Linked DNA regions of Homo sapiens. The protein of the gene in region 1 purifies or fractionates together with the protein of each later gene. This does not show direct contact. Each region holds a gene or a part of one and is shown on either strand. Other genes may lie near its edges. The genes, in order: CDH12, ARVCF, CHEK2 and PKP4.

What was found.
Region 2: the proteins of CDH12 (region 1) and ARVCF purify together in Homo sapiens (affinity purification with mass spectrometry; one large-scale study listed by BioGRID and IntAct). This does not show direct contact.
Region 3: the proteins of CDH12 (region 1) and CHEK2 purify together in Homo sapiens (affinity purification with mass spectrometry; one large-scale study listed by BioGRID and IntAct). This does not show direct contact.
Region 4: the proteins of CDH12 (region 1) and PKP4 purify together in Homo sapiens (affinity purification with mass spectrometry; one large-scale study listed by BioGRID and IntAct). This does not show direct contact.

Annotation. Positions count from the first base shown.
Region 1 is NC_000005.10:21,797,910-21,806,652, reverse strand, and holds part of CDH12 (cadherin-12 isoform 1 preproprotein), read left to right. Parts: intron 1-4,232; coding exon 4,233-4,486; intron 4,487-8,743. UniProt on the Homo sapiens protein: Cadherins are calcium-dependent cell adhesion proteins. They preferentially interact with themselves in a homophilic manner in connecting cells; cadherins may thus contribute to the sorting of heterogeneous cell types.
Region 2 is NC_000022.11:20,008,242-20,016,984, reverse strand, and holds the start of ARVCF (splicing regulator ARVCF), read left to right. Parts: upstream 1-161; 5' UTR 162-396; intron 397-6,476; 5' UTR 6,477-6,530; intron 6,531-8,743. UniProt on the Homo sapiens protein: Contributes to the regulation of alternative splicing of pre-mRNAs.
Region 3 is NC_000022.11:28,731,821-28,735,320, reverse strand, and holds part of CHEK2 (serine/threonine-protein kinase Chk2), read left to right. Parts: intron 1-593; coding exon of another isoform or gene 594-599; coding exon 600-918; intron 919-3,500. UniProt on the Homo sapiens protein: Serine/threonine-protein kinase which is required for checkpoint-mediated cell cycle arrest, activation of DNA repair and apoptosis in response to the presence of DNA double-strand breaks.
Region 4 is NC_000002.12:158,676,745-158,684,476, reverse strand, and holds the end of PKP4 (plakophilin-4), read right to left. Parts: coding exon 7,610-7,732; intron 5,897-7,609; coding exon 5,823-5,896; intron 5,232-5,822; exon of another isoform or gene 5,088-5,231; intron 4,049-5,087; coding exon 3,800-4,048; 3' UTR 3,048-3,799; downstream 1-3,047. UniProt on the Homo sapiens protein: Plays a role as a regulator of Rho activity during cytokinesis. May play a role in junctional plaques.

The DNA.
Region 1 (8,743 bases):
TAATAGGAGAAAAGGCAAACAAATTATTTAACGTGTATATACAGGTGCCTTCAGAATGAAGACCCAATTTCCCAATAAGTTACAGAATCTAATCACCATCTCAAGGTTACAGAAAGAATGGTGGCCCAGAGCATGGACAAAACCAGGTTGTCTTGGTAAATCACGTTTAGTGGCAAGAAAGGTTATGAGAGGGAGAAAGGAAGTGGCTTGGCTACCAAAGCCACTTGTTATGTAAATGAAACCTCCCTCAGAGAAAATAGATGATAGTTATTTATTTTCAGACTTTTAAAATTGTCAGGCTCTCATTGGCTCCTAGGTCTGGGAAAGGCATAGAAAAGACCTGCCCACGTTAATGGGAATTCCTTACAGATGCAATTTTTCTCCCACAAAAGATAGCTTTGCAAGGCCACTTATATTTTCTGGCCCTGTGGCAGACATTTCAAAATACATCAGAGAAATATCTTGGGGGGTAAAATATTTTTTATTTCCTTCAGTGGCAAAAAACAAAGAAGCAAAATTCCCCCCTTCCCCAATTCCTCCCTTGAGTCTCTGTAGAACAATTGAGTATATCATATTTCATTTCTCTATAGTTGTGGTTCTTACTGCACAACTCAATTAGATGAATTGTTTCCTGAACATTCTGGTGCCACTAGTCTTCCCTTATAGAAACAACCTAAAGAGAAAGAAGCTGCTCAACTAAATTCTCTTTAGTCAATCATTTCTTCCCCTTTGAGAGGTTCATAACCATTAAATGGGCTCCAAGCCATGCCACAAAGTTCTCTATTTATTGTGCAAGAGATAAATTAGTTCAACCTCACAATAATGTATGTCTATCATAGAATATGATTTATTTTCTAGCACTGAAACTAATCCTATTTATTCTATATTTATTTCAAATGCTGGGATTTTTATTGATTGTGAAACTAAAGTTCATTCCCCCCAAAAATGGAGGGTAGTCAGTCAGATGTGTAGGTAAATTCAATTAAAGACAGATCACTGCTGGTTCTCTTTGCCCTTTCTGAGCTATATACCATTTTGTCAAGTGGGATTGCCTAAAAGTCAGGGTCACGAAGAAGTAAGTCCACCTAGGAGACTATGGTGGCATTTCTCTTACAATTTTCTTTAGTTCTTTGATCACTACAGGCTATAAGTTTTCAGTTGCAAAAAATCTGTATGTACAGGATTCTTTTATCTTACTCTGTCTCCCTAACAACCAGATATTTGCCTGCTGTTATAGGTCAGGGGTCCTTAAAAGGCATGGAATACATCTCATCTCTTTTAAAGGTTTCAAAATTCTCCTTTCATGTCTGGCTTGAAAAGGAGTTACCTGTAGAGAGTCAAGATTATCTAGATAACAGTAGTGTGTAATCAAGTAGGGAAAAAAAATTAAGATCTTATCTAGAAAGAATTTGCCAAATCATATAGATAATTAGAAGTACTTCAACATATGAGAAAGTAGAGAGGGAAATGGGGAATGATTGGTACAAACGTTTACATTCTAAGATAGAAGTTAATTTTTGCCTAAGAAAGGGAGTAAGTATGAGCCAGGTCAGCTCAATTTGCTTTCTAGGCAAAAGGAACCCTAAGGTGATAAAAATCAAAGTAGTCTTATACTACAAGTTAAGGATACCTAACATAGACCACTTATATTGTTTAACATTTATAGAGCATTTAGAGTTTGGAAAAACAGAAAACATATTTTTATATGTTCCTTAATTTGAATTAGCTAGTGCACGCTTCTATCTTACACATCATTCTCTCTCCGATATCTTCTAACATATTGAATATCTCTTAAACACATGTAATTATAGAGAACTTGGTACTTCTTCAAACTCACTCATTAAGCAAGATGGCAATATTCTGTAATTTGTTGAATGAATTGAGAGGCAAGTCTTGTCTTTTCATCTTTCCATCCTTACAGGATGCATGTCAAGCCTTGCCACCACGTAAAACATCTATGTGTGTGTGTGTGTGTGTGTGTGTGTGTGTGTGTGTGTGTGTGTGTGTGTTTTAATTCACTATAGAATGATTTTATTTATTAGAGGTTTTCTCTTTTTTCTAATCTAAATTTACTCTCGTTAATAACTCAAATTACTATTAATTCACCACTCAGAGGCATAAAGAATAATCCTAAGTAATGTCAACATAATGGCCCTTCAAGTATTTGAAAATGTGTGTCTTTCCTTGCCTTGGCAGTAATTGTAGTGGTTTCTCATTTTTGGCTTTGGTAATATTTTATCATTCTAGTCTTGCAATAAGTTGTCTTTTCTTGAGTCTGATTTCTTCAACAAAACACAGTATTCAAGCTTTAGGCTGATCAAAGGAACATCACTGGGTGATCCTCTCTCTTTTTTTCAGATACTACACTTCTATTCATGTCATCAAAGGCCACATTATCAACCATCGCATATTATGCATACTATTCTTTGCTTATATAGGTATTAAGAGAAATCAAAATTTCTAACAGGAGAAATATGAAAATGAAAGGAAATCAATATTATAAGTTAACAGGTATGAGGTTAGCAAATTAAAATATAGAAAAGTAAAAAGAAAACATTGATTACAAAGCAGATAAACACATAAATAAAAATATGATAAAAGGAATACCTATAGGGAATTAATAAATATAGTTCCTGCTGCATAAAAAAGTATGGTGAAAGAGACTGATGTCATATTCAAGTGAAATTGCTGTTTTGTTATAATAAATTCCATGAAATTGTGAGTTTTCGAAGATTTAAAAGTGTTTTTTTGTTTTTGTTTTTGTTCCTCAGAGGAAATGCATAAAATGGCAATCATATCTTAGAAGGAGAAAAATATCCATCCTTCCTTTATTTTCCCCAGGTGTACTACAGTAAAGGAACAGGTACTGACACAGCAATTAGCAACTTACTGGGGTCAGACTTGAAGGAATTCCTTTAGAAAACATAAATTTTTAAAGGTCCCAGAAAATCACCATGTTAATGTTAAATTCGTGTTGTCTCAGATTTTCTTAGATGATCAGAGGCCAGAGCCATTGACCTTAAAATTATCACTTAAACAAAGCACCACAGCAGCACCATATTTCAGGAATAGTGTATTTTCAGTTATTGTGGACATAAAATTAATATTTAGAGTGAGGGTGCAAGTAAGCAGCGATAAGCTAAAACTGAGCATCCGTGACTCCATAGAAAATGACTTTCTATATTATGTTTCACAGCCTTCTCTAATTTAGTCATATATATTAATATATAAAGCCACAATTCTTGGTAATGTGTATTGATGATGTGTTACCGCGCCCATAATTTATATATACAGTTCTGAGAACACACACACACAAAAATTCTTTTTAAATTAGTACTATGTATGCTTTTAAATACTGATACAGACATTTACTAGTAAAAAAAATAAAAAAAGATCTAGACATCCAAAAGTATTTAATATAAGATGCCATAAAATAAGACAACAAAATATGGAGTTTTCATGGGACCACTTTTTCAATACCAAATTTACAGCTAGAATCTAGAGTATCTTCAATGATCCTATTTCATTTTTATTCATTTTTTTGTTTATCATTGCTTTGTTCCACTAGATGTCAGTATTGGATAAGAGCAGAGAAATGCTTCCCTGAACATCTGTTCTGTTGCTGTTTTAACTTTGCTCATATAAAATGATTAAGCCCTACCTAGCATGTATGTCTGCACGTAAATGATGAGTTTTTCAAACATAGGCAACTGATGATCTTTACAAGTTACCCAGAAACTTCTACATGGACGTGATTCTTTTCTTAAAATGTTTACCTTGCTTCTGTAATCCCAGTCCTTTGGGAGGCCGAGGTGGGTGGATCACCTGAGGTCAGGAATCCGAGACCAGCCTGGCCAACATGTTGAAACCCCGTCTCTACTTAAAATACAAAAATTAGCCAGGCATGGTGGCGGGCGCCTGTAGTCCCAGATCCTCCGGAAGCTGAGGCAGGAGAACCGCTTGAACCCCAGAGGTGGAGGTTGCAGTGAGCCGAGATCACACCACTGAGCTCCAGCCTGGGAGAGAGGGAGAGACTCTGTCTCAAAAAAAAAAAAAAAAGAAAAAAAAATGGTTTGCCTTGTGCTGCCCTTACCCACTAGTTATTAAGAAAAATGAAAATTTTAAACCAGTATAATTGATAATAACTTGCAAATTGCTCTGAAGTAATGTTCACCATTTCTGCCACATTCTATATAAATTTACTCCTTATTCTTAATTTGTCCTCACTACAGCCTTTAGATTTTGAAACAAAGAAGGCATACACTTTCAAAGTTGAGGCTTCCAACCTTCACCTTGACCACCGGTTTCACTCGGCGGGCCCTTTCAAAGACACAGCTACGGTGAAGATCAGCGTGCTGGACGTAGATGAGCCACCGGTTTTCAGCAAGCCGCTCTACACCATGGAGGTTTATGAAGACACTCCGGTAGGGACCATCATTGGCGCTGTCACTGCTCAAGACCTGGATGTAGGCAGCAGTGCTGTTAGGTGAGAAAAAGAAACATTTTTTTTCTATGTTTCAGGAAAACAAAACAAAACAAGAACAAAAACCAGAGAACCAATTCTCTGTCCAAAACTGCATGATGATTTAATTATAGAATATGATGCTTGAAAACATAATGACTTTACATAAGAATAGAGGAAATGTTATAGGATTGGGGGGAAAACATATTATCAACTATTGCAGCAGTGTTTACTAGTGGTGTTATAACCAATAGAGGTCTGATTCTCATGTCACTCAAGGTAACAAATCTCAACTCTTCATGTATAAACGGGATTTAATAACATAACCTTTTAGAGAATGATTCTCATAATTAGTAATATTAAGATACTTTGAAAGTGCCTAGAGTATAATAGACATTAATACATTTTATAATTACTCTAAAATTTCTGACCCCTTACCCAAAGTTAGTGTTTGAAAAAGTTATTGCAATTTGCATGTCATTTTTTCCAGTGTAACAAACTTGTCTACTGTTGTTGAGGTGAAATGAGTAGAGACACAGTTAGAGTCAGTCCTAGAGTAAAATGAATTTATGGAATTGCTCAAAGCAAATGCTTTGCAAGAAGCTGCTTCCTGCTCATCTCTCTCCCACTGTCACTCTCTCTCAACACATAAAGTCCACTAGTACTATCAAGACATAATACAATTTCCCTTTTCCTCATTTATGCATTGACCCAGCAGTATGTTTTGAGACTTTATTTCCCATTCGTTCTATTGTATGCTTGAATTTTCTGCCGCGTGCCTACAGCTGTTGAGAAACCAATTAAAAGACAAGTATGAGATTTGTTCCTGAATCTTCTGTCCCGAAAGAAGCTTACTATGCAAGAACCAAAATAAGAAAATATTAAGTAGGTTTTTAAAGCAAAAACACTTTATTCTATTGACATACAACAGACAGATATCTTGTAAGATTTTACACTATGTGACAAGTAAAGATTAAAACAATGGATCAAGTGTTCAGTAGTATCCTTAACACAGTAATTGCATATAGTGACATCTCAGGAAATGGCTTGACAGCATACGTAACTTGCTCTTTGGATTTATCTGAATCCATCACCTATAATTACATGAATACTACCTCAGTCAGTTCTAGCTGCTACCATCCATTAACACATACTGGATGTATTAGTTCGTTTTCACACTACTATAAAGAACCACCCTGAGACTGGGTAATCTATAAAGTAAAGAGGTTTAATCGATTCACAGTTCCACATGCCTGGGGAGGCCTCAGGAAACTTACAATCATGGCGGAAGGAGAAGCAGGCGCATCTTACATGGCAGCAGGCAAGACACAACGTGTGAAGGAGGAACAGTCAAACAACTTATGAAACAATCAGATTTTGTAAGAACTCACTCACTATCATGAGCAAAGCATGGGGGAACCACCCCCACTCCCATGAGCCAATCACCTCCCACAAGGACCCTCCTTCAACATGTAGGGATTACAATTCTAAATGAGATTTTGATTGGAACCCAGAGCCAAACCATATCACTGGATGACTTAAGTAACAAACACAGTTCTGGAGGCTAGACAGTCCAAGATCAAGCGACCAGCAGATCCAGCGTCTGGTGAAGACCGGCTTTCTTTTCAGCAGGTGGTCATCTTCTCCTTGTTTCCAGACACTGGAGAAAGAGAAAGAGAGCTCTCTCTAGAGTCCCTTTTGTAATGGTAAAAATAACTTCATGAGGGCTCCATCCGGATCAACTAATTACCTCCCAAATGCCCCATCTTTTAATACTATCACATTGAGGTTTAGGATTGCAAGATGTGAATTTTGGGGGGATACATATCATCTCATAAGATTCCAATTCTGCCCACCCCAAATTTATGTCTTTCTTACATGCAAAATGCAGACATCCTAAGGGCCCCCAAAGTCTCAACTTCTTCTAATATTAATTAAAATCCAAAGTGTCATCTAAATATCATCTAAGCCAAACAAATGTGAGACAAAAGGTACAATTCATCCCGAGGCCAAATTCCTCTCCAGCTGTGAATCTCCAGCTGTGAAACCAAATAAATTATGTGTTTCCAAAATACAATGGTGAAGATATTCCTATTCCAAGATGTAGAAAGAGGAAAGAAGAGAGGGGTGAGAGGTCCAATGTAAGTCCAAAACCTAACAGGGGAAACTCCATTAAACCTTAGTCTCAAACATAATCCTTCTCTAGCTCTATTCTTCACCTCTCAGGCCCACTAGAATGGATGTCCCACTTTTGGACTCACTAGGGTGGCAATATAACCTCCACCACTCGGAGGGACACCACCCATGCTGTGGTTCTCTGCAGTGTCCTCACTCATGTGCAGTGGTCACACTCTCAGGGCTCCACTGAGCGACCCTACCCCAGTGTGTCTTCTAGGCATTGATCCCAATGTTTAAAATCATTATGGAAGCAGCCATTCCACAAGCCTGGTGACATCAAATCACTGTTGGGGTGATTTGGAATTCTTCCCTCGATTTGGAGAATTATGAATGCTCATAGCTGAAGAGCTATGTGATGCTATTTAACAGAGCTGAAGAAGTTTGATGATCTTCTTTCATTTTACCACATTTCTGTTTTCTTTAGTACCAGCTGGCAGTGTTTCTGCTATTATAATCTCATCTGTTTTCCTGGCTTTTTTTGAAATAGCAGATGAAGTTCTGGTTCACACCTATACAAATCTTCTTATTAAGTAATCAATCTATCAACCCTTAATGTTCTCTTCTAAACACACTTTCTCATTATTTTGGAACACGGACGGGGCTGAGATATTTCCAAGTCCTTAAGCTTTGGTTTCTTTTTACTTAAAAAATTCATCTTTATTTCATTTCTTTTATTTCACATTTTACTGCAAGCAGTTGTGAGGAACCAAGCTACTCCTTTAACACTTTGCTTAAAAATCTCCTCAGCTAAATATCTAATAATTTCATCACTCAAAAGTCCTTCTTTCCACAAAATACTAGACCATGAACACCATCCACCTAACTTCTTTGCCACTTACTGACCTTTCCTCTAGTTTCTAATAACATGTCTTTATTTCTCTCTGTTAACATATCAGAATGGCTTTTACTGTCCATATATCTACCAACATTCTGTTTATGACTGTTGAGTTGTTATTTGGGAGGACAGAATCTTTCTCTACAGTTCTCTTTTCTTTCTGAACCTTTAACAGAATATCCTTGAACATTCATAATTTTAGCACTTCAAAACTCTTCCAGCCTGTACCCCTTACTCAGTTTCAGAGCCACTTCTACATTTTTAGGTATTTTTTATAGCTGCACCCCCACCGTTTGGTACCAATGTCTGTCTTAGTCACTTAAGGCTGCTATAACAAATTACCGTTGATGGAGTGGCTTCAGCAAAAAACATATATGTCTCTTGTTTCTGAAAGCTGGAAAGGTTATGTTCAATGTGCCAAGAGATCCATTGTCTAATAAAGGCCTGGTTTCTATTCAGCAGAAAGTCATGTCTTTGTATCCACACAGCAGAAAGAGAAAGAGAGCTGTCTGGGTCTTGGTTAGAAGGGCACTAATCCTATTTATGAGGACTCCACCCTCATGACCTCCTTACCCCCACAAAGCCTATCCATATATCATACATTGGACATTAGGATTTCAACATATGAATTTTGGGGAAACATAAACATCCAGTCCATAACAAATGCTTTTATTCTTGAAGAGAATCAGTAATCAGGAGAGAACTCTAAAAAAGCTCATCTGTCTTTTAAAAAGAAATAAGTATAACAATTACTGAGCACCCGTACATTTCAGGCTGAATGCTAACCAATTTACTCACTGAATTCAAACTATTATTTTACATTTCCATATTACAACATGATTCACTTCCAGTTAAGTTCCAGAAAACCATATATGGTTTATAGGGCTATATGCAGACACACACACACACACACACACACACACACACATCCACATATACATTCAAATATTTGTTAGGTATTCTCCAAAATCTGCTGCCTTGGTAATTATTATGTATTAACCTAACATTATTTATCAGTCTTTTATTTCTGAAGCCCTAGGATGTTCTGTTGATAATTAGAAAAGTAGAAGATGCCTGGTGAATAGATTTACAGGTCTTTTTTAAATGTGAACAGTTATTGAAAAAAAATTGAAGGTTGCAACAAAAATAATTAAAAGGTAAATGAAGATTAATTAAAACTCTCTGCAGGTCAATAAATAAGAATTTACATAGAGAAACTATGTATCTAGAGTAGAGAACATGCTATGTTGTTTAATTTACTGTTTGTT
Region 2 (8,743 bases), on another chromosome or scaffold:
GCCGGGACTGACATCCCGGAGGCCCAATGGCAAGCCGTCATCTCCGCGCATCCGCCCAATCGGCGCCGGTTGCCGTGCCGCGCCGGGTCTCTCGACCAATGGGAAAATTTGCTGTCAGATGGGGCGGGGCGGAGATTCGCGTCGCCGGCCCGGTCCGCTTTGCGCACGGGCCGCGTGAGGGCGGGAGGGCTGGCCCGGGGTCTCGGGTTGCGCGCTGGGCCTGGAGGGAGGGGGCGGCCCCCGCACCGGTCCGAGTTGCGGCCGCGTGGACTGCGACCCGCGCCGCGCCGCACCGCGCCGCGCCCTGGGAACGCCGCTCCCCGCGCGCCAACGGACCCGGGGAAGCCCTTCTGGGGTCCGAGGCCGCGCTGCGGGGCCGCCCACGCTGCGCTCCAGGTAAGCCTGAGCCAGTGGGCGGGGTGTGGGACCCGGGGCTGGGGCCTCGGGTCGGAGCCGGGACTGGGGGCGGGGCTGCAGATATGGGACGCATTCCGGGCAGCGGTCCGGACAGGGTCCTATCCCTGGAGTCGAGATCCGGGCGAGGGTCTGGGCCGGACGTCGGAGCCAATCTCCGCCCCACCCGCGTCTTGTCCGCGCGCTCTGCGGCGTCCGAGACCCCGGGCCGGCGGGGGCGGGTCTCTTTGTGCGTGGCCTTGGGGCCCTACCCTACCCGTCCGGGCGTCTTGCACTGAGCACTCCAGCCGAGCGCGGCCCGACCCCGCAGCCGTGCCCGCCCCGCGCGACGCTTGGCGCCTAGCTGCCAGGGCCCTGCAGCCGCCGAAACTTTCCAACAGCCCGAGGGGCGGCAGGCCGGGAACTTTCCTGGGGCAGCGCGCCGCCGGGAAGCTCAGGGGCACCGACGGCCCGGAGGTGTCCTCGCGCCGCGCTGCTCCTGCCGCCTCGGGGGTGAGAGAGGGCGCGCCACCCGGACCCCCGGCCTGGGTCCCCCTCCCCACGCCGCCCTGCGCCCCCTCGGTGCCGGTGCGGAGACATGTCATCTCCACTCTGAGGGAGACTGCTCGGTTTGCTGGGGAGTCGCCCTGGGCAGGTGGCCTGAGAGCTCCAGCCTATTTTAATTTTTAAATAATTAAATATTGGCTGCTTACAATATTTCACCGTTTCTTAGCTATGTGTAATGTAACATACTTAAAATGGAACTAAAGGACTTCAGCTCCCTTTCCCTACATCCAGGCATATTTAGAAATAAGGAAAAGAAAGGTGCCCCGTGGGTATTTTTTAGAGTAGGCTCTTAATGCTGCTGTCTAATAACCTCAGGTGAGTACCCAGGCTGCTGTGGGGGAAACCTCCCCTATGGTATGGGCCAGGGGGGTGCAGTGGGAGCCTCCACCTCTCCCGACCTTAGCTTCTCTGGGGTAGCTGCCTTTACTTCTTCCTACTTCTTAACTACTGCCTTATCTGCCTTTACTCTGGGATCTGGGCGGTGTTTAGAGGTCTGGTCCAAACAAGGCAGGTGTTACCTATCTTGTACTCACTCTATTGGAGCTGGGATGGTGCTGAATGCAGGGGGGCAGTCAGCGCTCTCTTGCCCGGTGTGCCATGCCAGTGGCCGGTCAGCTCCTAAGCAGGTGATCCAGGCCTTAGATCAGGCGACAGTGTGAGCCGCAGCGTGTCTGGGAAGGCATTTCCCCCAGTCTTGCCCCATCCTATCCGCAATGTCTGCTCCCAGCTGTCCCCTGTCCCCACCCTACCCCCATTCTGGGGTCCACCAGCGCCCAGCAGAGGACTGGGCACAGAACATTCGCTAAGGGACTCAAGTCCCAGCTGAGAGGGTAGTTGAGCACAGCCAAGCCAGCCCCTGCCCAGCTCTTGGCTGAGCTGCCCTGTCAGGCTTTTCAGCATAAACACAAGGACCTTCTGACCAAGGTTCCTCCTGGGAGAACAAGTTCTGACCCTCAATCCTGCTAAATTTGAGTCTCCCCACCCACCACATCTGGGCTGCTTGGCTCCCATGTTTGCTCTGGCACTCCCTCCAGAGGTGGCCCTGTAGTCTCCCCCCAGTCCCGGGGCCCTCTGCATCTCTGTGGCTCTGTGAGGGTAGGGTAGCACCCCTCCTTCTGTTTGTGCTACACAGGGATTCAGGGTGAGTTCCCTGTGCTCCTTCACCCCAGGAGTCTGGCCTGGGGGAGCATGAGGCTGTCCTGAGTAAGGACAGAAGGTGCAGGAGCAGCAGGATCCCCGGTCTCTGGGTGGAGCAGGGAGCTCTGCACACGGATGCCAGGCACCACCCTCTGTCCAGCCCATCTGTCGTGCTCCCCGCCTGGCCCTGGCAGAGGGAGTGACAGGGTAGAGCTGGGATAGGGAGTCAGGGCCCATTCTGTAGACAGGGCCAGGAATGGAGGGTGGGGGTCCAGGGACAGCACTGCAGAGCACCAGCTGGGCCTTGGGGGTCCTGGGGACTTCCCTGATGGTGGCTTAGTCATGGGGAGGTGTCTGTTCTTTTGTCAGCAGCTTCAATTAAGACCAGAATGAGGCCGGGCGCAGTGGCTCATGCCTGTAATCCCAACACTTTGGGAGGCCAAGGCAGGTGGATCACCTGAGGTCAGGAGTTTGACACTAGCCTGGCCAACATGGTGAAACCCTGTCTCTACTAAAAATACAAAAATTAGTCGGGCATGGTGGCATGCGCCTGTAGTCCCAGCTACTCAAGAGGCTGAGGCAGGAGAATCGCTTGAACCGGGGAGGTGAGGGTTGCAGTGAGCCAAGATCACACCACTGCACTCCAGCCTGGGTGATAGAGCGAGACTCTATCTCCAAAAAACAAAAACAAACAAAACAACCAGGATGGGCTGGTCACGGTGGCTCGTACCTGTAATCCCAGCACTTTGGGAGGCCGAGGCAGGCAGACAGATCACCTGAGGTCAGGAGTTTGAGACCAGCCTGGCCAACATGGTGAAACCCTGTTTCTACTAAAAATACAAAACAAATTAGCTGGACCTGGTGGCATATGCCTGTAATCCCAGCTGCTGGGGAGACTGAGGCAGGAGGGTTGCCTGAACCTGGGAGGCAGAGGTTGCAGTGAGCCAAGATTGTGCCATCGCACTCCAGCCTGGGTGACAGGGTGAGACTCCGTCTCAAAAAAAGAAAAAAAAATACCCACAAAAAAACAAACAGAAAAACCCAAGATGAAGTCTTGGGTCACTCTGAGGGGACTTGGGATCAGGGATCCCTTAGTAGGTTTTCCTGGCTCAGGGCCTTCATATCTTGGCCTGTTTCAGGTCGGGAAGATGACCCAGAGCTGGTGGGTGCCTGGGGCCACAGAGTTCCCCCCACTCCATAACCAGTTATGCACAGGCCCTTCCCACTGCCCCTGCTGATTGAGGGGCTGCCGCCTCTGGCAGAGCAACGGGGAGCTGAGCATGGCCACCAGAGGGCAGCTGGGACCGCCACAGCAGGCAAGACCGGCTCCACCCAGCTTCCTGCGGCAGACCAGGACCCTTCCCCAGACACCTGGCTTGGATGACCGGAGCTCGGCCTCCAAGCCGCCTATTGAGGGCGTGGAGTTGGAAAGGAGCCAAGCAAGGCCCCTCGGTACCCCCAACATGCTTGGTGCAGGCAGAAGGAAGCCTGAAGGCCAGCTGGTGGGTGACCACACACAGGCTCAGCAGGGACAGTGAAGGACTAGCCCTGTGCCTGCGTAGCCCCAAAAGTGCAGTGTCCTTCAAGTGTGTGCCCAGGGGCCTCCCAAGCCTTCCCAGGTGTGGTCTGTGCCTCAATGTCCACAGCAGAAGTGGGCGTGTTCTCACTATGTGCCCAGGGTGGCAGCAGGCCTAGGAGAACACTCGGTTTTGCTGTAGTGGACAGCATTGTCATTGAGCAGCATGGACCTTCCCTGTCCACTGGCCACGGGGCACTCCATTCACCTGCCTGCATTGGCTGTTGCCAGGGCATGTTCTCAGCTACCTACAGTCAGTGTCACCTCGCGCTCATAGAGCAGGAAGCGAGGAGACTTGGGGAGGGGGTGGCCTGCTGAGGCCACACTGCAGGGAGTGCAGAGCGAGCTCACCTGGGCCCCTCATTGCCTACCCAGCCCAGGCTGCATCCTCCATCCCAGTTCTGGGCCCAGTGTGTACCCATGGGAGCTGCCCTGTGCCGTCAGCTATCCAAAGGACTGTAGCTTGCCAATCTGGCTGTGTGGCCTGGGCCAGGCTTATGCCCCAGTGTGAGACCTCTCAGCCCTCTGGTTGGACCATGGATACCGTGCCAGAACCACAGGGCTTACTAGGGCATCAGTGGGGTGTAGCCAGGGGCTGACAGAGCCCCATGGCCAGCCATCGGGTCTGGACAGTTTGGTGGGGAGACCCAGTGTGGGGGTCCCATGGCATGGGTAGGCCCAGGCCATCCTCACTGGGAAAAGGGCCCAATAAAGGGCGTGGTCATTCCCCCGCTTTGAGGCGGCTGGTACTGGGTCCTTGGCCAGGCAGGTGACCCCAGAGCTTGCAGAGCACTCAGGGGGGCTCCCCAAGGTGAGCACCTCCCCACCTTCCCATATGATCCTATCACTAGTTCTGCCTTCACATCACTGTCCTGTCTGTCGTCCCTCTGTCCGTCCACTGCCCAGAGCTCCCTTAGGTTGTCCACAGATGCTCTGCTCTGCCCCTGCCTGTACGATGCTGATGTGCCTAGTGCACCCTTAGGAAGGATACCCACAGCTCTGGCTGCTCCTACCACTCAGCCTCCTGTGGTGCTGCTATCCTCTGCTCCCACCCATCTCCTGGGGGAAGCCCTCTCCAATGCCTCACTTGGACCCCTTCCCAGGGTCTGCTATTGGCTCTACCATATGGTTGCAGGTTCTTGGCCTGGCTGGACCCCATGAGGTAGGAGGCCCATGAGGAAGGACCCATGTTCTCCTTTGGTCACACTTCCCCAACTGGGTGGGGGGGGGGGACTTTGGGAGGCCTGGAGGCAGGAAGACCTGAGTTAAATCCTGGCCCAGCCCTTGTCTGGCTGGGACCCAGTTTCTCCATGTGTAAAATGGGGTATATAGCCAACCTGAGACACCTGGTAGAGTCAGTGAGATGACGGCTCACAGCCAGTGTGTCTCGGTTCTGTGGCACATGGTGACTCCGGGGGAGAGGCTGGTGCTTATCAGGGATAAAAAAAAAAAGTCACATGGTTCTCTGTGGTACAAAACCTATGTGAACACTTAAGCTAAAACCAGAGGTTTCCTAGAAATGTCACACTCAGAGCAAAAGCTGGTTCCTAAGCCTCAGACCTTGGAGTAGGAGCAGCATCTCCTCTTCCTCGGGGCGCAGTGCTGGTGGATGGGCTCCCAACCGGGCCTGCCCATCTCAGGTGCACACACACACTCATATTCACATGCACGCACATGCATATGCACATGTGCCTGGCTTGGTCCCCAGTTCTTCCCTGCCTCAGGCCCTGCATCCCACCCCCCATGATCCCACCCTGAGGCGTAGCCAGTCGCCCACCCTCACTTGGACCCCTTCCCATGATGAAGAGGCTGTCGTGAGACGGGGAAACACACCGTTGGGGCACCAGAATGGACCATGACCACAAAGGACTATTGGGCGGGGCCTCAGAACAATCTAGAAAACACCGTAGAGGCGGGGGAGAGAGCTCTCATTACCGATGTCCCCCAGAGACAGCCTCCCATCCGAGGCCCAGCCCTTCCCTGTCTGTCTGCAGTGTCCTGTTTTTCATTTTTATGACATGAACACTCTGGCAATATCCCCGGGCCTAGATATAAGGAGAGGGAATGTGTCCCCGGGGCCATTAGCTGAGACAGGAAGCCGCAGGGTCCTCCCCTGAGGAAGGCTGAAAGCTGTGTGAGTACAGGCACCCCCTTGTCTCCTGCTCCAGCCCATAAGCCTCAGCTCCCCAGGCTTGAGTGCCAGGTCCCCCATCCCAGACAAATGGTTATTCACACCTGGCCACAGCTCCAGGGCCAGGAACCTGCCTGCTTCCCCGCCCTCCCTGTACTGGAGACTGTTGGGGGCAGCTGCCTGCCTGGGAGGGCCCAGGATCTATGTTGGCCTCAGGGAACCTCAGGAGAGGCACGTGGCCTCGCCCACAAGGCGGGAGCGGACTCTAGGGAGGTGGAGCAGATGTCTTATGGGGCTGTGAGCACCTGCGTGGGGCAACAGGACCCTGAGCCTGGCTACCCTGGGGTGGGAATACTGCTGTGCTGTGTGTGATGGGGAAGACGTCATTATCAGTCCACATCTCTGAAGGATCACGTTTCTGAAGGATGGTCAACAGCATTAGACATGCTGACAAGGAACCGTGGCAGCCCAGTGTCACCTACAGTCCTGGACATGTGGGGGCAAGAAGGTACACATGAGTGTGTGGTTATGAGTCAGGAGCACCACGGGATGACCTTCAGATCAGGCATGACAAGGTCCTGCTTAGAGGACGGTCTGGGCTTGTGTACCTTTATCCGGCAGGGACCTACCCAGCTGGATTGACCTCACTCATGCCCTCTGGTTTCCCTGCAGGAGCCAGAGCCTGCAGGGTGGGTGTCGGGACATGCTGATCTTCCCTCAAGACAGGTGAGTGGCCTGGGTTTAGCTTGGGGACATCCTCTCCCACATAGGACAGCAGAGTGTTCTGGTGGGCCTGGCGGGTGGGGGTGACAGGGATGGACTGGCCCTGGACACTGTGTGCTCCTGGTCCTTCTCACCCTGGGTAGGCACAGCCCCTGGGCTGGACAGGGTGGATGTGAGGGCCTCCTGCCACCAGCTTGGGTTTGTTACTGGCCTGAATATGGGCAGCAGCCACTGGTTTGATGTCTGGCTTTAGGGACAAGCCTGTTTGGGGCTGGCTGACGAGGTTGCTGGTCAGTGTTGGTTTGGACATTCACTGGGTCTGCTCTTCACCTGCCTGAGCTAGGATGCCAGCCGCAGTGGCATCCAGTATTGGCACAGCCTGCTGGGCCAGGCCATTCGCTTGCCCCCCAGAGACTGGAGCCACAGGGACAGAGGATAGTCCTGGAGGCCAGGCACACAAAACTTTGTTTGAAAAGGTCTGATAGTAAGTAATTCAATTTTGCAGGCCTTATGGTCTCTGTCACAGCTGCAGTTCTCTGCCATTGTAGGATGAAAATGGCTGCAGACAGCCCATAACTGAATAGTCTGAATGTACTCTGATCACAGCCGTAGGCCATGTGTACTGGCCCGTGGCCTCAGGTGTTATCTGTGTTTGGGGTTCCTCTGCTTATCATGGCTGCTAGCTCCAGTGGGACTGAGGCATAGCGCCTGGGAAGCATGGCAGGGTTGGAGGCTGAGTGGTCCATGTCCCCCAGGACCCTCTGAAGGATGGTAAGGCATACCCTGCTCACATCCACGCTGCCAGAGTTTTGCCACGATGGGTGCTGTTCAGCAGAGTGGGTGATGGCTTAAGAGAATGGCTCCTGGCCATTCTTGTTCCTCCAGTCCCCACCCTGGCCATCTGCCTGTCCCCCCAAAAAGCAGTCTCTGTGGGAGGCATGGCTGACAGCCCTGTGGTTTCTCAGTGACAATTAGTGCCCATTGTGGAGGCATGGCCCAGCCAGTGCTGTGCCTAAGTGGTAGGGAGAAGGCCATGGCCTCCGGATGCCTGAGTGACCTAGGCTGAGGGATCTAGGGCAGATGGGAGGGACAGGATGACTGACTCCTTGCCTGTTCCCAAGTCCTTGGGCATGGAAAGCTGCCGGCCGGGCCAGCCTAGTGGGAGCTGGGTCTGCTGCCGCCTGGCTGTGTGGGAGGACCAGCGTCTGGCCGAGAATGTCACTGCTCAGGCCATTTGGCCATGCAGGGTCTTCTGGGTTGGGACAAAGAAGCTCAGGCAGGGTACTTGGCTTGCTTGTGGCACAGGTGACAGGGCATCTCAGGGTGGCAGGAGGGGCTGTCCCACTGCCCTTAACTCCTCGTAGGTCACCACACTTCAGGGAGGCCAGGTCAGCCAGACACCAAACGACAGCCCTGGTAACAGGGTCCGCAGGAGGGTGGTTGGCTGGGCAGGTCCGAGGCTGCCCAGGCACACTTGCTCACTCTCCCTCCTGTTGCTTGCTCCTTTCTTGTCCCTTCTTTTCCCTCCCCCCTCCAGTTCTTGGTCTTCTCTATGTTTCTCTGTGGCCCTCTCTGTGCCTCTTTCTCTGCCTTTCCCCATCTCCTATCCTGCCCATCTGGAATGTGGTGATTGCTTATTCCTGTCTGCTGTGGTGATTGGTTTTTCATGTCTGCCCTGGGCACTGGTGCGATGGGTGATGGCATTTGTGCCATCTCTGCTCTGGCTTGGGCAACCTGGGCTCTGGCTTGCGGCTGCCTGCTCTGCTGGGCCCTGGGGTGTGGTCCTGTCCACAGCGGGAGGCAGCTGGGGAGGGAGCCTCAGGGCTCAGCTGGGACAGGGGCTGATGTAAACACCCATGTGTCACCACACTCAGCACCCACTCACCCAGCCTCATGCTGGGTCCTGGGCATCACAGGCACATCAGGCCCAGCCCTGCCCCTGAGGAGCTCCCAGCCTGGTTGAGGAGATCCACAACACACAGAGGAACCAGTGGCCAACTGTGGGGTTACAAGATGGTGATGAGTAGCATGGCTCCCTTAGGAGGGGGAGCTGGGAGGGTGTGATGGGGTGGTGCGTGCTGAGACCAGGCCTGAGTGAGAAGGGCTGGCGGGGACACAGATGCCCTGCCGTTTCCCATAGCTGGCCAGCAGTGGTGTCCTCTCAGAGACCAGCACCAGCCTGGCCTCCTCCATCAGCCGCCGTGTGCCTGCAGGGG
Region 3 (3,500 bases), on another chromosome or scaffold:
GATTCTCCTGCCTCAGCCTCCCGAGTAGCTGAGAATACAGGTGCCCGCCACCACGCCTGGCTAATTTTTTGTATTTTTAGTAGAGACGGAGTTTCACTATGTTGGCCAGGCTGGTCTTGAACTCCTGACCTCATGATCTGCCCGTCTTGTCCTCCCAAAGTGCGGGACTACAGGAGTGAACCCCCGCGCCTGGCCCCCTGTATATATGAAATTTAAATGTAGTGTTGATTGTATCAGTACATTTTTGGTTTCAGTCTTAATTTAAAAGAATTGGACAAATGTAAGCTTTTATGAGCCCCCCAGCTCAATTTTATTGCTTTTTACTTATTTGTAACCTTCAGATAATTTGTTTTTCCCTGTAGTTTATGGCTGTCAGATAAAAAACTGATCTGGTGACAATGATCTGGTGAAAAGCTCAGCCCAGAAGAACTATAGGTCTGGGCTGTTAGGACTTTTAATTTTTGGAGAGCATGTTTGCCCTGTTTTTTTTTTTTTCTTTTCTTTTGCTGTTGTAATAGGCCCATCATTTACTTTTTAATTTTAAGTCTTGTGCCTTGAAACTCACCTTTGTTGTTGGACACTTTCTTTTTGAGGTCGTGATGTCTCGGGAGTCGGATGTTGAGGCTCAGCAGTCTCATGGCAGCAGTGCCTGTTCACAGCCCCATGGCAGCGTTACCCAGTCCCAAGGCTCCTCCTCACAGTCCCAGGGCATATCCAGCTCCTCTACCAGCACGATGCCAAACTCCAGCCAGTCCTCTCACTCCAGCTCTGGGACACTGAGCTCCTTAGAGACAGTGTCCACTCAGGAACTCTATTCTATTCCTGAGGACCAAGAACCTGAGGACCAAGAACCTGAGGAGCCTACCCCTGCCCCCTGGGCTCGATTATGGGCCCTTCAGGATGGATTTGCCAATCTTGGTAAGACCCTTTGTTGTATAGTATCACGTTTTGTTCAGAAAAACACTTACAGAAAGTTGTATTACCAGGTGGAAGGTTCTGATTGGAGTTGTCCAGGTTTTTGGCACGTTGAACAAATAATTGAACATCATGCATGAACAAGCAATGAAAGCATAGATTTATTGAAGTGGAAGGCAATAGAAGCTAAAGTACATGTCACAGGATGGGAGCAGGCCTGAGCAAGTGGCTGCAGAGCCCTTGTAGCAAAGTCTTCTGGGGTTCAAGTACCCTCTAGAGGTCTCCCACTGTTTACATCCTATGTAAATGAAGTGCTGGCTCACAGCCCATTAGAGGCCAAAGTGAATTGGAGCTCGGCCATTCCAAGACTGGTGTGGATTGACGCCTTATGCAAATGAAGGTCCTAGAATGGACGGATCATAGGCCAGAGTGCAAATTCTTCCTTTTTTGTTTAGTTTCAGGAATTTTTTTTTTTTTTTTTTTGGCAACGGAGTCTTGCTCTGTCGCACAGACAAGTGCAGTGACGCCATCTCGGCTCGGCTCACTGCAGCCTCTGACTCCTGGGTTCAAGCGATTCTCCTGTCTCAGATTCCTGAGTAGCTGGGATTACAGACACACACCACCACACCTGGCTAATTTTTGTATTTTTAGTAGAGACGGGGTTTCACCACGTTGGCCAGGCTGGTCTCGAACTCCTGGCCTCAAGTGATCCTCCTGCTTCGGCCTCCCAAAGTGTTGGGATTACAGGCATGAGCAACCGTGCCCATCTATTCCAGGAAGTTTGCGTGAATTGGCCATAGATTCCCTGCCTTCAGACCCTATTTTCCTGCCTTAGTTAGTTGCAGCAGAATGCTTGAGCCACTCTTAGAATAATTCTGGAGTTTGAATGTGATAAAAGGTAAAACCAAAGAGGCAGTATTGGGTGTTGCCCTGGCTGTTACCTGCTGTGGATTCTGTTCATTTACTCTTTCAACAAATAATAATTGGACATTTACAATGTGCTGTCCATCCAAAGATCTGAAGGTAGCTTTGGACCCTCTTCCTAGAAAAATGCAGATTCACTCAAACTTGCAAACATTATCCCCTAATCACAAAAGCTTCACTAGTTAACCTCTGCTGTGGTTTGCCACAGCTTCAGAGAATCAGAGCTGTTCAGAATAGAGATGGCCATTTGTTGACTACTTGTTACTTGTTTTTGTCTCAAAATAGCCAACCTTGTGATTTAAACATGTTGACCCTTTCTGACACCTCCTGGTTCCAATAGTAAGTTTTGCTCTGCATATGTTTAAAATACACATGTGTGTATTTTAACATTGCCAGGCATGGTGGCTCACGCCTGTAATCCCAGCACTTTGGGAGGCCAAAGCGGGAGGATCACTTGAGGCCAGGAGTTCGAAACCAGCTTGGGCAACATGGCAAAACCCTGTCTCTCCTGAAAATACAAAAATTAGCCAGGTGTGGTGGCGCATGTCTGCAATCCCAGCTACTCAGGAGGATGAGACATGAGAATTGCTTGAACCTGGGAGGCAGAGGTTGCAATGAGCCAGGATTGCACCACTGCACTCCGGCCAAAAAAAATAGTGTTTTTTTTCCTTTCGCTTACATTGCAATGACCTCTTTAATAAACAAATTTGAACTTGGCATTAACAGGATAGAATATGTTAATATAAAGAAATGAAGGACTGATGTATCATTTTGTGTTTTGTCACTCACCATCCTTGTTTTATTTCATGTCTAACTTTGATATCTTGAAAAAACTATAAAAAATGGAGGAATATACCTGCATTCCACATATACAACTTTAAATTTATAAGTAGACACTCGAAGCTATTTTTAACTGATTTAAAATATATTTTTCAGACCGGGCATTGTGGCTCATGCCTGTAATCCCAGCACGTTGAGAGACCAAGGCAGGTGGATCACCTGAGGTCAGGAGTTTGAGGCCATCCTGGCCAACATGGGGAAACCCTGTCTCTGTTAAAAATACAAAAATTAGGCCAGGCGTGGTGGCTCATGCCTGTAATCCCAGCACTTTGGGAGGCCGAGATGGGCGGATCACCTGAGATCGGGAGTTCGAGACCAGCCTGACCAACATGGAGAAACCCTGTCTCTACTAAAAATACAAAATTAGCTGGGCATGGTGGCGGGCTCCTGTAATCCCAGCTACTCAGGAGGCTGAGGCAGGAGAATCGGTTGAACCTGGGAGGCAGAGGTTGCAGTGAACCGAGATCTCGCCATTGCACTCCAGCCTGGGCAACAAGAGCGAAACTCCATCTCAAAAAAAAAAGAAAAAAAAATTTGCGGGGCGTTGTGGCAGGCATCTGTAATCCCACCCACACAGGAGGCTGAGACAGGAGAATTGCTGGAACTTGGGAGGTGGAGGTTGCAGTGAGCTGAGATTGCGCTACTGCAGTCCCGCCTGGGTGACAGAGCGAGATTCCGTCTCCAAAAAATAAACAAATAAATAAAATACAATATATTTTTTCAGATAGGCCTATAGGTTTAGATGAGTGAGAAATAGAAATGGTGAGAAAGGGCTAAATGGGATACATCACCTTTAAAAGTAAGAAAACAAAGAGGCTGGG
Region 4 (7,732 bases), on another chromosome or scaffold:
AAAACAATGGTATTTTAAAAATCTAATAAGTGAATAGCAATGGCCAAGTTTTCAAATGTCTTTTCCTTGTAAGCCAGTTTGATCATGGAAATAAAACCACCATCCAATAGGTTTGGATAAGTGTTCCATCAAATGTACTGCTGAGGCCCCCAAATGGGAGGGTTGCCTAGTGACAGATTTTTAGTGGCTTATATTAATAGGCATAGCTCACAGCATTCTTTTAGGGGGAGTTATCAGCCAAACCTAAATCATCACACACATCAGAATAATCAGAACTCAAGTTTCCCAAAATGAGGTTCATGTAACACCAGTGGTGGTAGACAAGATAAATTTTGGTGGTACGTAGGCATTTTTTTTTTTTTTTGAGATGGGGTCTCCCTCTGTCACCCAGGCTGAAGTGCAGTGGTGCAATCATAGCTTACTGCAGCCTTGACTTCTTGTGCTTAAGTGATCCTCCTGCCTCAGCCTCCTGAGTAGCTGGGATTACAAGTGCATGCCACCATGCCCAGCTAATTAAAAACAATTTGATATTTTTTATGTTTAATAGTTAATTGTTCATTTTTATGGTTACTAAAAAAGTATATGAGAAAACCATCACTTGCCCAAAGTTTATGGCAAGTGATGGTTTTCTCCTTTTAGAGTAGTAATAGAAAGTCCTTTGGCAAATTTGAAGCAATGATGAAAAACACTTTGTAGAAGTTCAGCTGAAACTCAAATTATTAAATATGAAAACCACTGGCAATGTAGTTGAGTGTAATGCTAATGGCCCCTTACTGGCTGTATGATCTTCAGCAAGTTAGTCTTCCAAGTTTGCTTCAGGATATGTTAAATGGGCTGTTAGTACAGATGTCACACATGTGCTGTGAGGGTTAGATGATAATGTATGTGGTACTCTGAGCACATAGTCAGCAGTCAATAAAGTGACCTGTTGGTATTTCAGTGCAAGAATCAGCATCAGGTGGACAACAGAACACTGGCCAGGGATTAATGATTGGAACAGTTACGGGACTGTGTGGTCATCACTTCTGATACTCATGGACTTCAAAGGACATAACCTTAAACAAGTGTGCGCAGGCAAAAAGACATACTCTGGCAAAAAGAAAAACCTCACATCTGACTTTCCAAGTTTAAGATCTCAATGATAACACTCCAAATCTATCCCTCTCTTCTAGGCAAACTCCGCACCCTAAACCCCAGCTGCTAAATTTTCAGGTGGTGCGGCATGAAGGGATGGAGGGAGAATGGGGAGTAGTACCAAGTGGCTCTCACTGGACTGTATGCTGTGATCACCCAGGGAGCTTTTCAGGAATACTGATGTCTGGACACCACCTCTGTGGTTTTGAGTGGTCAGGGTGGGGTCCAGGTGACTCTTAATGTGCAATCACGGTAAGGAAACCCTTGTTTAGCTCACTGACATTGGCTCAGTTCAGCCCTGACCCTCTGGAACAGGGTGGAAGTGGGCTGAATTCTATATGCTACTTAGTGACGTAAGGACAGCAATAAAAAGTCAACTTTGTTTTAGCAGAGCTTGTTTATTCCCACACCTTGAAGGAACAGTAGGCTTTGTTTTTTCATCAATGATGCACTTTTGTATCATTCAGGCTGTGTCTGCAGTTTCTTTTCTCTGGTCTCAAGGGAGGAGTCTTAAACGGCATTAGATCTTCTGCCCAGTCCCCGTGTACAGGCCTCTTTCTGGCTCTGTTAGGTCTGATTGGAGACCCAGGTGAGTTATTTTCAACCCAAATTTGGATCCGTTTTTGAAATGCTGCCTGTTACAGCATTACCCCAAACTAATGCAGTCACTAAAAGAAAGTTATTGTCAGTTGGCTTGGGCTGGCTCCGATTCCCTTGTTTTCCTGATTCCCCAACTGAGCCTTCAGCTTCAACCCAGATCTGAAGATACCAGGTTCAGGGAAGTCAGTGATTGGAAACTGAAGTGGTTACGTCCCAGAAGTCCTGATGCCAGTTCCTCAGGAACATCTGGCGACCTCTGCCATCTAACAAGGGCTGTCTGCTGAGCTCCGCCAGGTATGAGGCAGCCAGGGCTCAGTAGCTGGGCAGTCGACTCCGCAAGCTGGCTCGAGTGTTCTTCAGAAGGCACCCCAGAAGGGCTCCCGGCTTGCAGATCTTAGGAACTTTCATGCTCGCACTGGTATTTCCATTTCACTTTGGATGCTCATCTTGGGCTGCTGTCCATTCGGCAAGAAAACGCAGTTTTCTCTTGGGTGTCTTTCCATATACTCACAAATATAAGTACAAATGTTTTAATCTGCGATTTGTATTACACTTGCAGGGTATATTGAGCTAAGACAACACTTCTGGGTTTGACTTGCCATGGGCGTTAGTTCCTAGTTTTCCTAGTACAGCTACAGGTAAACTAGTTCCTAGTTTTCCATGATGGCACTTAACCAATGTGGCATTTCCATATTTACACCAACAAAGATCCAGGAGCTAGGACTGAAGGGTGGAAACTGCAAGACCTGAGAAGGCCTCAGACTTTGGGCCTGGTGTCCCTCATTGCCTCCACAGATGGAGAAAAGCTCCCAAGTAATGCTGTGTGGTGCTATGGGGACCTCTGCCTACCCTACTGTGGGGCTTCTTTCCCCTACCCCATTCCTAATCCAGGAATTACTCAACAAGATCATAATTTAGAATTTGTTTTATTATATTGGTGCCAACCAAATAAATGCCCAACCACTGTTCTTATGAAGTTACTGAGTTCTTAAAAATGATGCCTAAAAAAGGTATCAATTTAGTTATATCAATTTAGTTATGGCCGGGCTGCCATATAGAAAAACATGATAAAACTGTGAAGGGTACTAGATTTGAAATAGATTCCAAGAAATAAAAATACCTAGATTGTCAGAGAAGGAAAGTTCATAGCTTAATTCTTTGGTGTGGTCCATCTCACAAAGTATATATAAAACTAGGAAAAGTCCAAAATAGTTGGATATATTTAAGCTGTTTCCAACATGCAGTTAGATTTGTGTTTATTAAATCTGCTTTTCCATATACATACAGAAAATTTAAAAAGAATAGAGAACACATTTCCAAGGATGAAATTTCCACATTTATTTTTCTTTTATGTGAATAGAAAATGGCAGTGAAGTGTCCTATGAATGAGGCGAGGAATGGGCATGGCGCTGCGGTACCAGCCTGGACGTTGTGCTTCCAAAGTACACTATGTGTGGTGGAGACAAAGGGTGTCGCGGTTTGCTTTTAATTGCTCACAGTTCCTTGGGCTTCTCATTTGTTTTTGAAGTTGTCAGTTTCTTCAAATCTCTTTTCAAGTGACACATTGCATTACAAATGATGGCACTTAACCAATGTGGCATTTCCATATTTACACCAACAAAAGAAATTTACAAGACATAATAGCATACAATCTTGACATTTAGTAATAGCAATAAAACATGGGCATCCATTTTATTTTTTCTGTACAAACTATCAGAACATAACTTTATTCACATTAAAAAAATCATCTTTAATTTGATTTGACCTACATATCCCCCATTTCATTTCACCCATTTCTCAAACCTCTCATCACGTCACCCACACCTTCACCAGACTACAGAATCTATAAGTAATTAGATCTAACACCTAAATAGAGCTTAGAAAGTCCTCTCCCAAACATTTCCTCACTTCCCTGATAATTCCTCAAAAAAGAAAAAAAAAACACACTTCATTCATTCCTTCCACTTCACTTTCACATTTCAATCATCAAATCAGCAAGATGGACTTTTCACCTCAATCTGAACAAGGTTAGAAAGAAAGAGTTCCTCTGTTGGGCATCTTGATGCTACACCCATGAGTCTGGGGACCCTGGGTACTGTTCTGCTCTATAAGAAGGTCGTTTAGTGGAATAAAAGTCTACATAATTTGTGGTCGATTTCAGTCCATACTGTGTTGAGTAATCAGTAGAAGCTGGAAAGTGAACTCGGTCATCAAAATAAGGATCTTCATAGCTATGAGGAGACTGCAAATACAATCTGTATGCATCAAAGTTCTTTCTGTTGGAGTCATCTTGACTATAATACAGCTGTTGATGCTGTTGACAAAATGAAAAGGCAAATAAATAAAAGCAATTTTTTAAAAATACATGTGTTAGGAAAATTAATGTGGGCTTCCTGCTTCATATTTTTAAAGCAATATTCAATATTTGCAGTTTAAGGTTAAAAGCTGTTTCTGGTGCACACTATGCGTTTACTATTGGACTCTAAGGATTTTAAGCTGCATTCTCAGGCAGGCTGCTGAGTTTCCTGTCCTAAGACCTCTAGAGAAGCAGGTGCCTCAAGAAAGCCTGAGATCTCAGGGCAGGTGGCCCCAGAAACCTCCCCTCTTTACTGGAGGCCCTGCTGTGTGCTCAGCTGTGGAGGCACCTGTTACCTGGGCATGCCGAATGAGAGGATGGTCTTGATATTTGGTTTGACACAGGGGAATTATTAGCACATCACTAATTTAGTCAAGGACTGGGTTTCTGGGCCTTGGATAATTGTATAATTACCGAACCATCTTTTAGAACATTTACTTCAGATATGAAGATGGAGTCCACCCCTACATTTTAAAAGATGTATGTGGCTAGGTGAACAACAGTCACACTTTGGAAACTCTGCTGTAAGTTGTAATATTAAAGGAATAAGCAATCTCAAGGCAGAAGAATAGTAAAATTAGGAGACACACGTGAGCAAATATGGTTCTAGAGGAAAAGGCTTCCCCAAGCCAGGGCTAAGTCCATCTGTAAGTGGGCAAGACCAGGCACACGTGGGCACCCACACAGGGCACACTGCTCTCCATTTCCTTTTGTTCAGTCTTAGCTTTGACCTCACACTAATTTCTTCAAATTGTGATGGTTATTATGTCTATGTTCTTGATTATGCCCAAATCCCCCTACTTAGTAAGATGTAACAAATTTACCACATAGAAACCAATGTCATGTCCTGGAACTCAATGCATTCTAACATTATAAGGATTTCAGAGCTAAATTCTCCTTTCAAGCCAGAGTTATGATTCTGGTCTATTTTTCCTGACTAAAAAACCATAGCATAAATTATGAATAACTTGGAAAGTTCTTTTTCTTCCACCTACAGAGAAAAGATGACGAGAAGGAGAGGTCTTAGAACACATCCTTATCTGAAGGACAGGATACAGTCTTGTTTTAGGAAACTCCAGCTGCTCTGTGTCATTGAAAGGGAAGAGGAGAGACCAGATGGTCCAAGTTCGCCATGGCACTGGTAAGGACCTGAGACTGACTGCAGGCCCTTCATGAAAGCAAAGCCTGGGTGTGTTATAACCGCCAGTCCCACTCTCCCACAGTGAGGTCCATCCCGGCAGGGGCTGAGTCCACCTTGACCACTGAGACAAACAGACCTGGTGATGGACTCAGTGTTTTTAAATTGTGGAGCTTGGACAGGGAGGGGCGAGATGGAGAACGAGGTATACACAAAAGAGAACAATGTGATGAGGGCATGAAGTGTGCTTACCAACCTTCCCTCACTCAGAGGCTGGAAGAGATTTTAGAGCTTAACAGAAAAAGAGTGGGAAGAGGACACTGCTGGGCAAAAGACATGAACTAAAGACTTCTCGGCTGTCCCCATCAGTGGCACGGTGGTCTCAGCAGTACCGATGTGGATACTCAAGAACGTGAGGCTACCGTGGAAATGCTTTGCTTAAACCACACGTTGAGTTTCCAAGGAGTGAAGATCCCCAGGGAAAGCATCTAGGACCCTGCCATGTTGGCCCAGCTCTGGGAAGTCAATCGACGTGGACCCCTTACTGTGTTAACTGCTAATCAGCCTTCTGTAAAAATGATATTGCAAATTCACCTGTAGCCGTCTATTTTGTTCTCTTGCTGGTGAGGAATAGGAACTGATGTAAATTGGTGAAGGTTTGCTGGAGCCTGTAAGAAAATATTTTATGAAATTAAAACTAGTGCTTATTACTCTGGTCCATTAGGCTGGGTGGTCTCCCCTGCACTAGGGCTAGCACTGTCCCCGACAGGGCCTGTCTTCCCCAGTGCCAATGCGGGCTGGGAGAGGTAGCAGCTCAGGGTCCCTGGATCTGGCCTGGCTGCTGCTTACCTCAGGGCTGGTGGGGGCTAATGGCAAAACTATGGCAGAAACAGGCTGTGTGTGTTTCCCCAAAAAGCAATGCCAGTGCAGAGCCCATGCGCAAAGGTTCCTGCTCAAGCTCTGCTCACATGTGGGAGGGTTTCTCCAGCTGGCTTTGGACAGCAGCACGGGATCCTGAGCTGAGGAACACTCCTTTTCCAGGGCTCTGAGCTACGGCAGTGGGTCAGAGAGGAGAAGCGAAACACAATATTCGAACAAGCCCCATGCCTTCCAAACAAACAACTGGGATTCAAAATCTCAGGTCAAGGAAGGAGCAACAATGGAGGCACAGTCTTGTACCTGGCATATTTAAGTATGTTTTAATACAAAAGGAACTTGGTAATAATGAGATAATTGTCTTCAAAAGTCCATAGTAGACTCCTGATGATGTTACCCTTCCATTATTATTAAGGCTAGCAAAGATTTTTATTTTTTTAATGAGGAAAATGAAACGTAGTTGAGGCAAATTAGTTTATTGAAGCAAGCGAAGAAGATACAGAAGGGCATGCATGCTAAAGAGGTGATCTGTAAGATAAAGCAGGCTGCTGCAAATCGGAAGCAACCATGCACTTCAGTTGGTATGTGCATTTCCTTTTGCCCAGAGCTTGGTGTTGAAATGTAGCATCTGCAATTTTCTGAGCTATTAATTGCCATAGTAACAACAGTCGATTAGTAAATAGTCCTGTGAAATCACAATTTCAAAGACAACAGTACAATGGAGACTGCCCCCCCAGCAGGAGTAAAGCTGCCACCAGCTTTTATTTATTTTTAATAGACAGGTTTGAGAAAAGAGTACTTTTTGTGGGGTAGCTCACACTGACTTATTTGGAACATCTAAAGTAGTTATAATCGCCAGACGGTTGAGAATGGGAACAGTATGAAATCTTAGTAACCCTTTGGGCTGGTATCCTTTAAATAAATTGTATGCACAGCTTTCTGAATAGGATATAAAAATATTAACACTATGTAACATTATTTTTGTTATTCTTAAAAAATAATCACGTTGAGAAGAATCACATTATACCTTTTGCTATTTATTCAAACTCTTCTCCATGAAAATGTAAATGAAATTGATCTCCATTCTCTGGTTTGAATTTAAGAGATGAGCCAGTCTAGAAGATGTGGCCCCTGCAAAGTGACACTGGGCTGACGGTTCTGATGCATGTGGAAAACACAGAGACTGCTCGAGCCAGGAGGGGACGGAGCAAAGGGACTGTGCCAGTGAGCAGCCAGAAATGATTTATTTGGATACAGCCCTCTTTTTATTTGTGCCCACCGTACAACTACATACATACATACATACAAACAAGTACATGCTTGTTTTACTTTAAACAAGCAGAAAAGGCAACAATCCCCAAAGTAGGAAAGGGAATGACTGGAACATGGTTTGCTGCTGGGGGACTGTCTCAATACAAGCACAGGCTACTTCCCAGGCCACTGGCCAAGCGCCTGGAAATGCGGCTTTTCAAGAGACTGTATCACACACCCAACTGGCGTCTTACCAGGGTACAGGCCTTTATGTGTGGCATCCCCTTGGCTATTGTAATACTGCATAGGTGGCTGGGTCCTATCGTATTCAGAGCGAGGGTCTCTGATTCCTAACAGTGCTGGTGAGGAAGAGGTGC